Regions from separate parts of the Homo sapiens genome. Here region 1 is linked to region 2. The links come from fine-mapping of genetic effects on gene expression. A gene starts in region 2. The other region holds a variant in brackets. All regions are shown on one strand. Distances are between the middles of the regions.

The links. PIP is the estimated chance that this variant, and not a neighbour inherited with it, causes the effect. A credible set is the group of variants that fine-mapping cannot tell apart.
Region 1: its variant is the best candidate, but not a certain one, in a credible set for the expression of CCDC71L in aorta (GTEx, PIP 0.51).

Annotation. Positions count from the first base shown.
Region 1 is chr7:106,768,871-106,771,786 of GRCh38, reverse strand. No RefSeq gene overlaps it. Among named protein-coding and RNA genes, the nearest start is that of LINC02577, 4.7 kb to the left of the region's middle. The variant C/T (reference allele first, on the strand shown) is at 1,456.
Region 2 is chr7:106,659,758-106,662,673 of GRCh38, reverse strand. It overlaps CCDC71L (coiled-coil domain containing 71 like), which reads left to right and starts at 1,516. Exons shown (of 1, transcript NM_175884.6): 1 at 1,516-2,916. The coding sequence starts at 1,778. The coding sequence ends at 2,485. RefSeq lists a silencer at 2,073-2,342 and an enhancer at 2,693-2,742.

The DNA of each region.
Region 1 (2,916 bases), 110 kb before region 2:
ATATCATGTATATAATTCCATTATGTATATATGATATATATATATATATATTCCATCATATATATATCATATATATATGGTTGAACTACACTGGGCTTTAACTACACTGATCTATGTTTCTTCCATCTTTTAACATAAATAAGTCATTGCCTATATTCCATCATATATATATGATATATATATATCACAGTGTAATTTTTAACTGTAATCTTAGTTTTTTTTGTTTTGAGTTACATAGATTTTATCAATTCTTAAATTATTTGAATTCAACTATCAAGTTTCTCCTAAATTTTCAATGTTGTAGTAAGAAAGAAGATAGCATTATTAAGTGGCTACTGTGCAATATTAACACTTTTATCTGGGTGTTTTCAATTAAAACTCAAAATAAGTTAATGCCAAGTAACCTCCATTCCTGCATTGATGAGACTAGTAAAGTTGCTAAAACCATAAGCCCTGAATTTAGGCACACCTGGATTTAAGTCTTGGCCACTTACTAACTATAAATTGCAGAAATTACTTAGCCCCTCAGGCTTAGCTTCCTCGCTGATAAATTTTAAAAGCAATAATTCTAATGATAATGTGGTGGTTATGAGGTTAAAAAATATAATGCCTGGGCAACATGATGAAGCCCCATCTTTATGAAATATATATAAATTAGCCAAACATGGTGACGTGCCTGTAGTCTTAGCTATCGGGAGGCTGAGGTGGGAGGACTGCTTGAGCCTGGGACGGGGAGGTTGCAGTGAGCTAAGATTGTGCCATTGCACTCCAGCCTGGGCAACAGAGCAAGATCCAGTCTCAAAACATATGTATATATGGCATGTGACTATATAATGCATAGTAACTGTTCAATAAATGTAAGCTATTGGTATTATTAGTCTCTCTGTCTCTCTCTTTTTTTTTGGCCTTATGTTTATCCCAAATAATTTGTATTTTCTTTGTTTTGGGCCTGATTTCTATATGAAGAAATAGTTTTGAATTGTCTCCTCGTGTATTAGCTCTGTCTCCCTAATTTTTAAATTGAAATATTCATAAACATGCATTCTGTGGTTTTCATGTTTTTGACAAAAATATTGAACAGAAATGAGCAAATCATAAATTCTTGGAGTTTGCCTTTTAAGGTGGAAGTCAAGTCTTTGGCCAATATTCTTTGGGTGACATTGAATGCCTAACTATGCAGCAAACCACCAGTCATCTTGCTGTTACCTGGGCCCTCATTCCTCCATCTTAACAACAAAAGGTGTGCATCACGATATTTGGCAAATGCTATGCTAAAACCAAGGCATACCATGTGCATGCCTTCCTCCTGACACACAGGCAACCAAATCTAAGAAAAGAAGTGAGACTGGTTGGCATGACTTGTTCTTAGTGAATTCACACTGGTTAGTATTTGTTTACTGTATCTTGCCTACAAATCATCCATTTTAGAATTTTGTTTGGCGTCTGCATGAGGCT[C/T]ATCAGTTTACATACAGATCTCATTCTTTCACTATTTTTAGAAGTAGAAACATTTTCCAGCCATTAGTCACCTTTTCCATTCTCCTTGATTCTCAGGAGCAGTTCTCTGATCTCATCTGCAAACTCTTTTGATACTTTGGGATAGAATTTGTATTAACAGAAGTTTTGAAGTCATTCAGAGTAAGTGAAGATTTCTCTTACTATCTCTTTTTCTATTGTAGGTTTTAATTCTCTCTTCATAATGTTTGCTTCAAAATTGATGTTCATCTCTCTTAGAATATGGAAGGAAGCAGAAAATTGAATGGTTCTTTGATTATGTTATCATTTGTTAAGGTTATATTGTAATTTTTTTTTTTTTTTTTGAGACAAGGTCTTGCTCTGTGGCCCAGGCTGGAGTGCAGTGGAGTGAACATGGCTAGTGAGGGTTTACTTTCTGGGCTCAAGTGATCCTCCCACCTCAGCCCCGAGTAGCTGGGAACACAGGCGTGTGCTACCACACCTGGCTAATTTTTTACAAAGTTTTGTAGAGATGGAGTCTCACTTTGTTGCCCAGGCTGGTGGGCAAGAGGTCCTCCTGGGCTCAAGTGATCCTCCTGCCTTGGCCTCCCAAAGCATTAGGATTACAGGTGTCAGCCACCATGCTTGGCCTAAGGTGATATTGTCTGAGATACAGCATAGGTTTTTCTTCCCAGATCTTTTCTTGGCTACGGAGATTAAAAAGAAAAACAGCTTTCTTGCTGTCTTTAGTATTTATCTCCGCCCCTACTTTATTTTAAGACTTTATTCTCATAATACTCTAAACAAATTTTCCCTTTCTTTTATCGCATGCTTGGGTCTGTCCACCCCATCCGTCCTCTGAGCCATAGGAACCTCGAGTCTTACTACTCCAGATCTAACCCTCCTTTTACCTCCTCTCTGAGAACTGTGTGCTCCTAGACTATTATTCTATTCTTGCTGTTTATGTTTTCAGCACAAGCTTGTTTATGGTCAATTATCTGAGATTATTTCTATTATATTTTCTTTCCAGACAGCATATCTTTCCTCCTAAACAGGATCATTTTTGTAATGCTCAAGTAATCCTGTTTTCAGAGTCTACATTCCTCTTCTAAACATATTCCCTTGGGCACTATTATTTTCCTTACTTTTTATGAAGCCCCCTTTCTGAAGGTCTGACCATTACCTTTTTCACTATTATAAACATCAAGGCCATTTTATTCCAAGGTTTGCTTGTTTCTGCATTTGACACCTCCTTCTTTCTTGTTGGAATCCAGGACAAAAATTTCCTAAATGTATTCCTTTACCTGCTGAGGGAAAATTGTCAGTAACCCAAACCAAGAACAAACTCTCCGTCTGCTGTGCGCTGGGTTGAATGTGTGCCTTTCCCCAGCTTATGTTCACCTGGAGCCTGTGAATATGACCTTATTTGAAAATACAGTCTTTGCAGATGTAATCAAGTTAAGA
Region 2 (2,916 bases):
TCATAAATCTATTATAAGACAGAGAAAAACTGCTCAATTCTGGGTGGGGTGGAAGTAGGAATAGGGGTACAGCTCTGTCCTTCGTCATTCTACTTATGCATAAAGCATGTTCTATTGAATTCCTTAGAGTCTGGACAGCACAGTTTGAAAAACCTTCAGTGAAATACAAAGATCACTAGATTAGAAATCGAAGGATTTAGAATCCCAGTTCTGCTATCAGCCAGCTGTGTTACTGAACCTCTATGGTACAGATTTCCTCACCTGTTAAATAAGGAGAATGAACTAGGTCTCTTTCAGGTCAAATATTTGAGGAAACCATTAGCAACTACATGTAAATCACAAAACTCCTATACTTTATTTGTTCACTACTGCAAAATAAGATGTTTCCTGGGTAAAATCCACATGCCCACCTCAAAGTTCTAAGTGTCAGGAGATTTTTTCTTTTAACCTTAAGAAATTTAAAGGAGTTCTGTGAAAATTGCAATATAAAATATCTAATTGTCCTGTTCTAAGCAGTTTCAACATTTCTGACTCTATTTGGGATAATCGGTGGTATTTCATTGATTCATTCGGCAAACACATTGAGTGTCCACTACCTGACAGGAACTGAGTTAGGTATAGAGGACAGAAAAGATGACTAAAGGATGTCCACTACTCTCCTCCCAATACAAAAGGTAATGTGTTTTGAACAATTTGTGTTTTTCAACGAAACCTTATCTGTTGTCTGCGATGATGCATCCTTTCTAAATGATAGGGGTGGCTTTGACATTTTAAAACTAAATGAAAAACGAATTGGCATCCATAAAGAACTGTGTATTTAAAACTATATTTTCTTTTCACAGAATGGCTTTATTGTAATAGATCTTTGATCAACTTGAGCAAAGAGTATTTAGTTTTATAGGGTATGACATGTTTTGCTTTCTGGATAAGCAGGGTCTCTCTTAAATATGAAGATGGCTCCAGTGTCCAGAGGGAGACTAAAATCTCTCAGCTGCCAGCCACGCACATTACCTGAATGATTCTGGATTACTACTGGCTTCTTGAGATGGGCTGGGGTCAAGACAGGGAAGAGTTTTGAATGAAGATGCCAGAAGAGGCCTTTGAGAGGGTGGATGGGAATTGCGAAAGGCCCATTTCCCCTAGACTTAAACCCAAATTCCCTAGCTGTGATGATACCAGGAACATCCTTCAGGGAAATCTCCCTTTGTTATCCACACTGGTAGAGCTCCCAGCTCAATCCACAACTGCACACCCCCTCACTCTAAGAGTCACTCTTCCCATGGTGTAGCCAACATCCACCCTCTTACTCTAGACGTGGCAGCCCTCCTAGATCCACCCAACCGTTGACTTACGTTCAAAGGCCATCACCCACCCCAGCACCATCTTCCAGGAACTGGCCTCTCCCCCATCAGTCCCCGCCCCTCTTCTGAGAGCACCCAATGGGTGGAGTCGGGGCTGCGGTGGGAGGGGCCTGAGGCGGGCACATTTAAAGAAAGGCAGCCGGCGAAAAGAGGCAAGAGAGGAGAAGAAAGAGAAACCAGGGGGGCGAGGCGCCGTCCAATGACAAAGCCCAGGGGTGGGCGCCGGCCGCCATCTTGTACCGGGCAGCAGGATATTCGCCCGCGTCCTCCGCCCTCGGAGGGGGAGGGGCGGCGGCGGAGGCGAGAAAAGTAGCGAGAGACGCCAGCAGCAGCCGCCGCCGCGGAGCCAACGCGGACTGGGACGGCGGCGGCAGTAGTGGGACCCGGCGAGCGTGAGTGGCCCGGAGCGGCCTTCGATGCGGCGCAGTATGAAGAGGCGGCGGCGCCGGCGCCCGGTCGCCCCGGCCACGGCCGCCCGGGGCGGCGACTTTAGGGCAGAAGACGGGGCTGGGTTGGAGGCGCGGGAGGAGAAGGTGGTGTACTCGCGGTCGCAACTGTCGCTGGCTGACAGCACCAAGGCGCTGGGCGACGCCTTCAAGCTCTTCATGCCCCGCAGCACGGAGTTCATGAGCTCGGACGCGGAGCTCTGGAGCTTCCTCTGCAGCCTCAAGCACCAGTTCTCCCCGCACATCCTGCGCAGCAAGGACGTCTACGGCTACTCCTCCTGCCGGGCCCTGGTACCCGACCCCCCGGGGCCCCCTACAGCCCGCGGCCAGGCGCGCCGGCCGGTTCCGCGCGCAGCGGCCAGGAGGAGGCGCCGCGGAGCCCGGGCGGCCGCTGCCCGCAGGAGGAAGCCCCGGCCGCCACCCCCACCGCCGCCGCCCCCCGAGGAGAGCTGCCCGGCCAAGCCCGTGGCCCCCGGGCCCTGCTTCGGGGGCCGCACCTTGGAGGAGATCTGGAGGGCGGCCACCCCGACGCTGACCACCTTCCCCACCATCCGCGTCGGCAGCGACGTGTGGGGCGAGCGCAGCCTGGCGGCAGCGCGGCGCAGGGCGCGCCAGGTCCTGCGAGTGAACCTGGAACCCATGGTGAGGCTCCGCCGCTTCCCGGTGCCCCGGGCATGAGGTGCGGCCTCCAGGGCGCCTCCTGCCGGCCCCGACCTTGGGACAGGCCTTCCGCCCGGAGGAATGAACAAGTGTCAGTCGAGTGTTTACAGATCCGGCCAGGACCCCGGCCCCCAATGCACTTTACGCGCGAAGAAGTTGCCGGATGGTTGTCCCTGTCCCGGGCCGCGGCGCGGTCGTCTTGGACGCTGGGGCAGGTGTGCCCTCTGCTGCCTCCCGTACCCGGCCTGCGGAGGGAGGGGACAGCTGGACCCGCAGGGGAGGTCCCTTTCTTCCTGACCACCGATTGAGACGTCTCCAGGACCTTAGGGGCAGATCCGTTTTCTCACTGTTGGACTCTACCTCACTGGTCTGGAAGTCCTCCGAAGACATTATTTTTCCAAAGGAATTTGGTTTCGTGCTTGTGTAATAAAGCCAGAATTTACTTGTTC